3 linked regions of the Homo sapiens genome follow. The protein of the gene in region 1 interacts with the protein of each later gene in a biochemical or structural test. Each region holds a gene or a part of one and is shown in the gene's direction. Other genes may lie near its edges. The genes, in order: RAD18, CTH and PCNA.

What was found.
Region 2: the proteins of RAD18 (region 1) and CTH form a complex in vitro, tested with the Homo sapiens proteins (one study listed by BioGRID).
Region 3: of the proteins of RAD18 (region 1) and PCNA, one has a biochemical effect on the other in vitro, tested with the Homo sapiens proteins (21 studies listed by BioGRID, with this or other methods).

The regions. Positions count from the first base shown.
Region 1 is NC_000003.12:8,953,377-8,957,032, reverse strand, and holds part of RAD18 (E3 ubiquitin-protein ligase RAD18), read left to right. Parts: intron 1-3,656. UniProt on the Homo sapiens protein: E3 ubiquitin-protein ligase involved in postreplication repair of UV-damaged DNA. Postreplication repair functions in gap-filling of a daughter strand on replication of damaged DNA.
Region 2 is NC_000001.11:70,409,705-70,413,460, forward strand, and holds the start of CTH (cystathionine gamma-lyase), read left to right. Parts: upstream 1-1,563; 5' UTR 1,564-1,711; coding exon 1,712-1,879; intron 1,880-3,756. UniProt on the Homo sapiens protein: Catalyzes the last step in the trans-sulfuration pathway from L-methionine to L-cysteine in a pyridoxal-5'-phosphate (PLP)-dependent manner, which consists on cleaving the L,L-cystathionine molecule into L-cysteine, ammonia and 2-oxobutanoate.
Region 3 is NC_000020.11:5,114,409-5,117,070, reverse strand, and holds the end of PCNA (proliferating cell nuclear antigen), read left to right. Parts: intron 1-1,498; coding exon 1,499-1,622; intron 1,623-1,708; coding exon 1,709-1,788; 3' UTR 1,789-2,118; downstream 2,119-2,662. UniProt on the Homo sapiens protein: Auxiliary protein of DNA polymerase delta and epsilon, is involved in the control of eukaryotic DNA replication by increasing the polymerase's processibility during elongation of the leading strand.

The DNA.
Region 1 (3,656 bases):
TCATGTCATTTGTGGATAAAGACAGTTTTACTCATTCCTTTCTGATCTATATGCCTTTATGTTTCTTTTTGTTACACAGGCTGGTACCTCAACTACAGTGTTGAAAGTGGTGTGGAGGGACATCCTGTCCTTACTCTTAATTTTTTGGGGAAAGCATTCAGTCTTTTACCATTAAGTATGATGTTAGCTGTAAGTTTTTTTTATATTCTTAATATGTTTTCATAAACCTACCAAGTTGAGGCACTTCTCTACCCCTGGTTAGGCGAGAGGATTTTTTTTTTTAAATCATGAATGGGTGTTGAATTTTGTCAAGTATTTTCTGCAGTTATGGAGATGCTCATATGATTTTCTTCCTTTATTTTGTGACATAGCTAATAACGTTGTTTTTGTTTTGTTTTGTTTGGGAGACAGGGCCTCACTCCCTCACAGTGGCTTTGTTACAGACTGGCTTTGTACTGTAGTCCCCCCTTATCTGTGATTTCAGTTACCTGTGGTCAACTGCATTCTGAAAATACTAAATGGGAAATTCTGGAAATAAATAATTCATAAGTTTTAAATTGCACTCTGTTCTAAGTAAAGCACTGATGAAATCTTGTGCCGTCCTGCCCAGGATGGGAATCATCCCTTTGTCAAGTGTGTTGATGTTACATATGCTATCTACCGTTAATCGTTTAGTGACCATCCTGGTTACCAGATTGACTGTTGCAGCATGGCAGTAATTGTCACTGTGTTGCAGAACACAGTAATTGTGTCAAGTAGCGCTTATTTTACTTAATAGTAGCCCCAAAGCACAAGAGTAATGATGCTGGCAATTCGGATATGACAAAGAGAAACCATAAAATGCTTCCTTTAAGTGAAAAGGTGAAAGTTCTTAACAAGGAAAGGAAAGAAAATTGTATGCTGAGGTTGCTAAGATCTACAGTACCATCTACAGTACAGCACAAGATATTTTGAGAGAAAGACCACATTTACATAACTTTTGTTATAGTATATTGTTTTAATTCTATGTTATTGTTATTGTTCCTAATCTCTTACTGTGTCTTATTAATAAATTAAACTTTATCATAGGTAAGTATGTATAGGAAAAAACATAGTATAAATAGGATTCAGTACTACCTGTGGTTTTAGGCATCCACTGCGCTTTATGGAATGTCTCGCCTGTGTATAAGGGGGCACTACCATATAGAGAAAGATCTTTACTAGTCAGCTTGACTGCAGATTCTAGGGGCTTCGTAAGCCTTTTCTGTGGATGTGTCTTCCCTGGACTTGTGATTATAAATTTCCAAGCCGAGAGATTTGGTCAGTTTTTTCATTAGCTGCTGTTTTTCTCTCTCATGTGTCTGTCCATGGTATTGCAGGTTCTCCAGAGTTGCTGTAAGCCATCAGCCTCTTTTTTTGTTTTCAGCTGCCCTCAAGCATCTAAAGTATGCTGATCCAAAGCACCCCAAGTTGAGTGAGACAGAAACCATTCCCTTAGGCAGTCCTTTGAAAAGTTCAAATGTTGGTCACACACTCCACTATTCTCTCCCAGCCTCCCCTCCCAAGATAAGCCGCAGAGCTATATCAGCCTCTGTCTGCTCTATGGGTCCTGTGGATCAGTAGCAAGCAACCCAGCTTTTTTTTATTCTTAGCAGTCCCCAGTCACCTAGAACATGCAGGGTTCATGCTTAGTGGGGTGAGACAGAAGCCAGTCCTCTGGCCAGCTCTTGGAAAAGCTAGAACATTGGACCGTGTTTCCCTTCTTTCTCTCCCCAGGCAGAAAGTTGGGGGTTTCTCTTCCTTGCTGAGCCTGGGGGAGGCACACTGGCCAGTGAGTGTGGTACTAGTCCAGACCTTTGCTTTTGTTCTCAGTGGCCCTCAACCTGGTTCCCTTTTCTGTCAGTGTATAGATTCAGGCAGCTCAGAAACCAGTTTCTCAAGTAGCCCCCGCAATGTAAGTGCTAGTCTTCTGTTTCTCTCCCTAGGGATACATGTTGTTTGCTCACTTCTTCATGACTTATAGCTGTCACTTATGCCATTCTTTAAGAGGAAGTCAGTGGAGGGAAGTTTCAGTAATGATGATTTTTTATTTTATGAGCACTTTTTTTTCACTTGTGAAGTCTCAGTATTCAGTAGGCCTCTTCTACTAAACACCAGTTGTCACAAGTCCCGTCATGTCTAAAATTTGCTCTGGGTCTTTAGTGTTTTAATGACACAAAACCCCCAGGGCTGTAGTGGAAGCCAGGTCTGTCATGTTCTGGTATCATCTTGGATTGACTAGAATTGGTGATCCAGAATCCTAGGTATTTATTGTTGCTTCTTAGATTTTTCATGATTTATCATTTTTAAATCACTTTATTTTGTTTTGTTCTGTTTAGGTTTTTGGATATGAGTAATAAACACTACATTTGTAGTTCTGCAGGTACAAAGGTGTGAGTGGGGTGCCTTGGCAGAATGCAGGTCAATTAAATTGATCCAAATTTGTGCTATTAAAGAGTATTTTGGGGGCGAGAGGGAGCAGACTTACTCCAACCCATAAAACACCATTAAGTGAGAAATGGTCTTGCTAATAGACTAATATGCCCAAGTGCCAATTTTCTTTGCACTTGCTATAATTTTTCTCACTTCATAATGGAAGATGATCAAAATATTTAGCAATTGGCTGGCTTTCAAACATCAAAAGAGTCTAGCATCTTAATAGTAAAAAGGAAATTTCTAAAACTTAAATGAATCCTTGTCATGTGAAATCTTAAGGACTTTATGAAAGAAGGAACTTTTTAGAAAGAAACATCTAAAGTGTCCAGTTAAAAGCAAAAACCAGTGTGAAAAGAACAGGAGGTCCAAGAAAGCTGAAAAGGTTGGCATCTGCCTCCAGTTCTAATGTTAAGGGACAGTTAGTTGGTAAGAGAATAACATCCCTCCAACTAAAGACTAGCATTTCAGAATTTCCAGAAGTGCAGCTCTGCATAATTATATCTCCCTTTTGTGTGTGTAGCTATTTCTCTTCTCCTCTGCCTTGTTTCACAGTGCTACTTCATGAGAATATAAAAGAAGATAAACACGTTTATTATTTGCCTAATAGAATCTTATGTTGTCTCTTGAATTAGCAAAGGTTTCGTAAGGGGAACATTTCATATTTCAGTTTGTTTTAAAAAATGAAATAAAATTGCTTTTTACTTCTACACAAGCTTTGATTAATTTTTTTTGAGTCAAAATCCACAAAAGGAAAAAAAAAAAAGATTGCTGGCCAAGCTTTAAAATAGTGGTAATTTATCAGTGTCCACAAGCCAATTATTTTATCTAGGATCTTGCTTGGGATTAGAGATGCCCCCTCTCCCAAGGCTTGGATATTTCTGTGAAACTACTCTTTAATTCATTGTTGTTATTGTACCTTCCTCCACTCTGCCCACACATCTTTTTTGGGCTCTCTTGGATGGAAAGACAAATTTCATAGGTGATTTAAATGAAGCCCTCTGGGAATACATGAATTCAAAACTCTTCAGCTGTTCTTCTTTGAATGGAAGGGTTGTCATAGTTGCCCACTAGAGAATAAATTATGCTGGTCTGCAGCTTACCAGTACATATTTGGTAGTAGTCTAGTAGAGTGAAATTAAGCCTAGGGCTTGATCTACTTAGGACTCCATATCTGGTTCTCCTCATTTCAAAAGAAAAGAAGA
Region 2 (3,756 bases), on another chromosome or scaffold:
CGGCCTCCCAAAGTGCTGGGATTAATAGGCGTTAGCCAATGCACCCAGCCTAGTGCTGTCTTCTGAATGATTCTTTATTACAGTACACTAAATAAAATGTCTGTATTTATGCAACTCAGGGTTTGTCAGCAAATATTAGGAGGTAAAACTAATTGGAACTGTTTTAGACCCTTTTGGCCCCTAAATGCCATATCATATTACACAAAAATACCCACCTATAGTTATACATAAATATTGAGGTGAGTTGCAGTTGATGTTATATTTTTAAAAGAAAAATATTAATTAAATATGTATTAATATACATTAGTGTTTTGAAGTCTATCCATTTTTTCCCCCAGCCATACAAAGTTTGGTAGGATTCTAAAAGCTTGTAGGCCCTCAAGCACCACTCCTCTAGTGCTTAATGGGTTAAATGTCCCTAAAGCTAATTTGAAAAGCAAATTGCCTCATTCTTTCTCTTCATATCTTTCTTTCAAACTGTAAATTTTAAGAGCTGTTTATTCCTTATTCTCCTTGTTCTTAATTTGTTTAATAAAGTTTTAGATCTTTAGCGAATATTTTGCAACAACAGAAATATCCCCAAATTTCCTGGTGCTAGAAAACAGCCACAATAGTAAGTAGGTCAAGTCTGTATTGCTTAGGGAACAGGGAGATTTTTGTTTTAAAGCAGTGATTCTTCTGAGAGTAGGGCTCTGGGCGCAGGTGAGTGGTAAACAATCCTTTTTCCTGCAGGGATGTTGCTGTTGTGTAAAAGCAAAAGCATTTTGTGTAAGGATGTTAGGCTCCAGTAAGTATTTCAAAGCCACATTATCTTTCTCATTAGGGGGAGTTTCTCTCTGTACTTTAAAAGAAGATAATGATGCTTGAAAAAGCTCAAGATTGACTAACTTTTAGGAAGCTGCCAGAGTTGTGCATAGACGTCCTCACTACAGTAGCTTCGTTATGTCTTACGAACAATTTAACCTTCACTTCTAGTCATCGTTTCGTCATCGTAAGCACTGGGTCATTACAGAGTTCAGTGTACCTAAAACGCAAGCTGTGACTGATGAGAATCCAAGCTGCAAACTGGGCGGCTTGGGCAACTGTTTTCTTAACCACCCTCCACGTTGTGGCTTACGTCTTTTAGCACCGCCCTCAGGGCAAAGGATGGTGGTCAGAGGTAACTACCACAGTAAAAGAAGGCTATTTATGTGGTCTGTTTACAGTTACCCGGTTTCAACACTAAGCCAGCTTTCCGCCACGTCTCGGGCGAACCTCCGGCCTGAGGTCACAGAGACGCCCGGGTGGCTCTCAGGAGCCAGCATGGCAGCCTCCTCAGGACGGGTACTCAGGAATTTCGCCCGCAGGGACTAACACCACTTGGACCCAGGGACTCCAGCTTCACTCCGCTTTGTGCACTGGGTGGGGCGGTCGCGGTGACGTTTCAGGCAACGCCTCTGCTGTCAGCCAATAAGGAGCGGGAGACGCGTCGGGCCTGCGCTCAATGGGCCGCGCTGGTCCCGCCCCACTGTGATCGTGAGACTGCAGACCCGCTAATAAAATCCACCCCAACAATCGCTGTGTGCCGCTTTAGTGCGCTCGCCGTCGGCTCTACCTGCGTGCTTTAGCTCCTTCTCGCCTGATCCTTCTGTCTCTCCCAACCCCGGACACCCGGCTTCGACTGGTTATATCTTCGGTGTTCTTTTCCTCTCTTCTTCTTTCGCGGTTCAGCATGCAGGAAAAAGACGCCTCCTCACAAGGTTTCCTGCCACACTTCCAACATTTCGCCACGCAGGCGATCCATGTGGGCCAGGATCCAGAGCAATGGACCTCCAGGGCTGTAGTGCCCCCCATCTCACTGTCCACCACGTTCAAGCAAGGGGCGCCTGGCCAGCACTCGGTGAGCTGGGTCTGTCTGGGGCTGTCCACAGTTGGGCGGTAAAAGAGATACGGCTTATGAATTTGAAAGGCATGTAAGTAATTTATAATATGACTTATAAATTAGGAAGGCAACCGAAAGATGTTTCTACACTGTAATTCTTGCAGCACAGCTTTGTATCGGATGGTCCAGTGATCGTATTTCTTTTGATAAGCAGGACTGGAAGGAGCCGTTTGTCCAGCTTGCCATTTAGATTTGGCCTGAAATTCAGGTGATTTTGACAAATTTGCAATTAAAAATCGAAGGTCATAACTTTTTTGAGTTACCTTTAGCAGCATAAATTTTAAAGATGTAGTACGGAGTCAGCTTAAAAAATATTAAGGGTCTGATAACTTGACTAGAATTAAGATTGTTTCCAGTAGCTGTATGAATAGTTATTGAGTACCTACTATATGCCAAATACGTGCTCGTATATATCATGTGTATTACATGTATTGTCTCATCTAATCCTAACAACAACCCTAGTCTGAACCGAATTCTCATTTTTTCCCAATAAAGAAGCTGAGATTTAGGGAGTTAAGTAACTAGCCTTAGACTAGTAAGTATTGGAGATGGAATTCAAACTTTAGAAACTTGAGGTTGCTTTAGGAACCAACTCCTAGGCACTCAGCTACACTATGCTATCTCTAATAATGCTAGTAACAATTTAGCCTATTGCGTCATTTAAGCACTGTGGCTTAGTGATTAAGAACACAACTCATGACCGGGTGCAGTGGCTTACGCCTGTAATCCCAGCACTTTGGGAGGCTGAGGCGGGTGGATCACCTGAGGACAGGAGTTCGAGCCCAGCCTGGCCAACATGGTGAAACCCCATCTCTACTAAAAATAAATAAATTAGCTGGGCATGGTGGCGGGTAATCTCAGCTACTCGGGAAGCTGAGGCAGGAGAATCGCTTGAACCCAGGAGGCAGAGGTTGCAGTGAGCCAAGATCTCACCATTGTGCTCCAGCCTGGGTGACAAGAGTGAAACTCCAACTCAAACAACAACAGAAAAAGAGAACACAAATCTTATAGTCAAAGGCTAGGTTTGCATTCTGACACCACTTCTTCTGAGCTGGGGGACCTTGGGCAAGTTAGTTAACCTATCAAAACCTCTGACTGATCCTGTATAAATGGGGATAATAATAGTATCTACCACATAAGTTGTTGAGATGTATTTAAGGCTGTATAGTACATAATAATTACTCGATGGTAATTTGTTTTTTCATGATGTTCACATTTACACTATTTCCATTTGATCCTCACAACAACCAGGTCAGAAGGCAGGACAGGTATTATGTACTTTTTATAGAAAAGGAACTGACACAGAGTCATACATGAATGATCTGTAAAGCCTACGAAGGAGCCCTCTTTGTTAATCACATAGCTTTTTTCCCCCTTTTGGTGGCATACTTGATGGATCTTAGAGAATTTAAAAGTTGCTGAGATTTGTAAGAATTAGTTAAAGTCTGTAAGTCCAAAGCCTTGATTATGCTTTGGAAACCACTTCAGTGTGTTATATAAGTTGAGGAAAATCCTTACAGACAGTCCCTTGTTTTGTGAGATACAGTTCTAAGGCCATTTCTACAACTGGTTTAGAATACTCTTTACTGTATTTTAGAATCAAAATATGTACACAGCCTCTCTTTCTTTCTTTCTTTTTTTTTTTTTTTTATTTTTCAGAGAGAGTCTTACTCTGTCACCCAGGCTGGAGTGCAGTGGTGCGATCTCGGCTCACTGCAACCTCCGCCTCCCGGGTTCAAGCGATTCTCCGGCCTCAGCCTCCTAAGTAGCTGGGATTACAGGCGCCTGCCACTGCGCCTGACTCATTTTTTATTTTTTTTAGTAGAGACGGGGTT
Region 3 (2,662 bases), on another chromosome or scaffold:
CCTAATATTAGCTTACATGTTGTGGGTCCAATTGGTAGCCCATTTTAAAGGTGGAGAAGCAGGCTGAGCAACCTTAAGTGACAATTTAGCCAAAGTCACAGGCTGTAGGAATCAAAGGTTAAACAGGAAGGAGACTTCTCACTAAGGCTAGAAAGCAGACTCCATGCAACTTTGAGAGTACCTAGAGAGCCCTTGTTTAACCAAAATAGAAAGAACATGGCAAAACCCCATCTCTACTAAAAATATAAAAATTAGCCGGGTGTGGTGGCGCACACCTGTAATCCCAGCTACTTGGAATGCTGAGATGGGAGAATGACTTGAACCGAGGAGGCGGAGGTTGCAGTGAGCCCAGATCATGCCACTCCCCTCCAGCCTGGGTGACAGAGCAAGATTCCATCTTAAACAAACAAAAAAAACTCGCTAACCTGGGCATAAATTAAAACTTTGTAAATCAAGGACAAAGGTCCTAACCTCATAACCTTGTTAGGATTAAATACGGTAGCATTAAAGAGCTTAGCATATGCTGTGTGTGGCATATTATAAGCTTACAATAAATACTATATATTGCTCTCTTGTCCCTTGAATGGGTAGTCAACATTTAGTTTAAATAAAGGTAAAATTCAGTTGAAAGGTTTTTTTTTAAATTAATAAAGTCTAGGAGCTGATTCTTTATCTGTTTCCTGAATCACATTTCCACTCCTGCCAACCTCGTTTTTTTCTTTTTCTGTTTTTCTTTGTTTTTGAGACAGGGTCTTGCTCTGTCCACCCAGGCTGGAGTGCGGTGGTGCAGTCGGTTCACTACAGCCTCAAACTCCAGGGCTTAAGTGATCCTCCTGCCTCAGTTTCCCAAGTAGCCGGGACTACAGGTGTGTGCCAACACACCTAGCCTGGTTTCCCCTAATTTCATTTTCCCCCTTCCATTACAATCTATTTGTTGAAGAAATTAGATCATTTATTAAGTTTTCCAGAGTTTGGATTTTGCTGATTGCATTCCTGTGTATACATAAATTCCTCTACCCTGTGTGTCCTACAGACTGGTAGCTATAGCCCTGGAGCCTTGATATTCAGGGTGTTTTGTTTCGGGGGTGAGAGAGCAAGAATATAGGTGGTGGTGTGTGCCTCTAGTAGGAGGCACAGGGTGTCTGGATGTGTTTGCAATGTTAGCAGCTATAATAGTCATTGTCTAGATCCATTAAGTCATTAATTAGAGTTTGCAGAGCTGAAATTAATACGTTTTATTCACTTATTGGCTGCTTATTAGAAAAACTTCCATAAAGAAAAGCTTTCCCATATTATATAATTTGGTTATCTAAATTATAGCTATAGGAAAGACAAGCTAGATAATCGAGTCTTTTGCTTTATGTATCAGTCTTCAAAATTTTCATAGCTCCCTCCAAAGTGACCAATACAAGTGTTTGTGGGTTTTTATAAATATATAATGAGCTAATAGATTGCAACTTTCTTGATGTTTTTCAATGATGAATCTTTTGTTTTGTAGGTTACCATAGAGATGAATGAACCAGTTCAACTAACTTTTGCACTGAGGTACCTGAACTTCTTTACAAAAGCCACTCCACTCTCTTCAACGGTGACACTCAGTATGTCTGCAGATGTACCCCTTGGTAAGATAATAAATTTGAACCTTGTTTTGTAGGTAGTCATATGTGATACATACTCCTCAGTAATTAACCATCTTCCTGTCTTTCAGTTGTAGAGTATAAAATTGCGGATATGGGACACTTAAAATACTACTTGGCTCCCAAGATCGAGGATGAAGAAGGATCTTAGGCATTCTTAAAATTCAAGAAAATAAAACTAAGCTCTTTGAGAACTGCTTCTAAGATGCCAGCATATACTGAAGTCTTTTCTGTCACCAAATTTGTACCTCTAAGTACATATGTAGATATTGTTTTCTGTAAATAACCTATTTTTTTCTCTATTCTCTGCAATTTGTTTAAAGAATAAAGTCCAAAGTCAGATCTGGTCTAGTTAACCTAGAAGTATTTTTGTCTCTTAGAAATACTTGTGATTTTTATAATACAAAAGGGTCTTGACTCTAAATGCAGTTTTAAGAATTGTTTTTGAATTTAAATAAAGTTACTTGAATTTCAAACATCACAGGGCAGTGTCTTCATTTTGACCAGGACTGTTGGAAGTATCCTACTGAATTCCCAGCTACAGCTACCCTTTCGTTTAAATGGTTTTTCAGTTTAGAGCAGCCTGATGGAGATCAAAAGGATTTCAAATACAGTAGGTTACTAGATATTTTAGGGGATTCACTTGTCAAACTTGTTATTCCAATTTGAGCTCAAGGAACAAGTGAGAGAGTAGTACAAATCCTGTGTATTTCATTTTACTTGGCAAAAATTAATACTCTTCAGAAGCTTAATGTACCGAAAGTCGTGTGGGCTTTATAAGATGTTAATGGAGTGTTTCTTTTTAGCCTGGGGAATCTTACAAGAGTCTTGGATGTTTCAGTAGAGCTGTAATGGGGCCCAAGGAGTATGGTTGTACAAAATTTCTCTAGTATAAGTACACTTTGCAACTTCACTCAAAGGATGAAGATGTCTTAAATTCCACGGATGTTGGATCCAACCAAGAAAGTGAAAAAGCCCTGAAGTTGTGAAGAAAGACTTAAAAACATTCCCACTAATAGCTACAA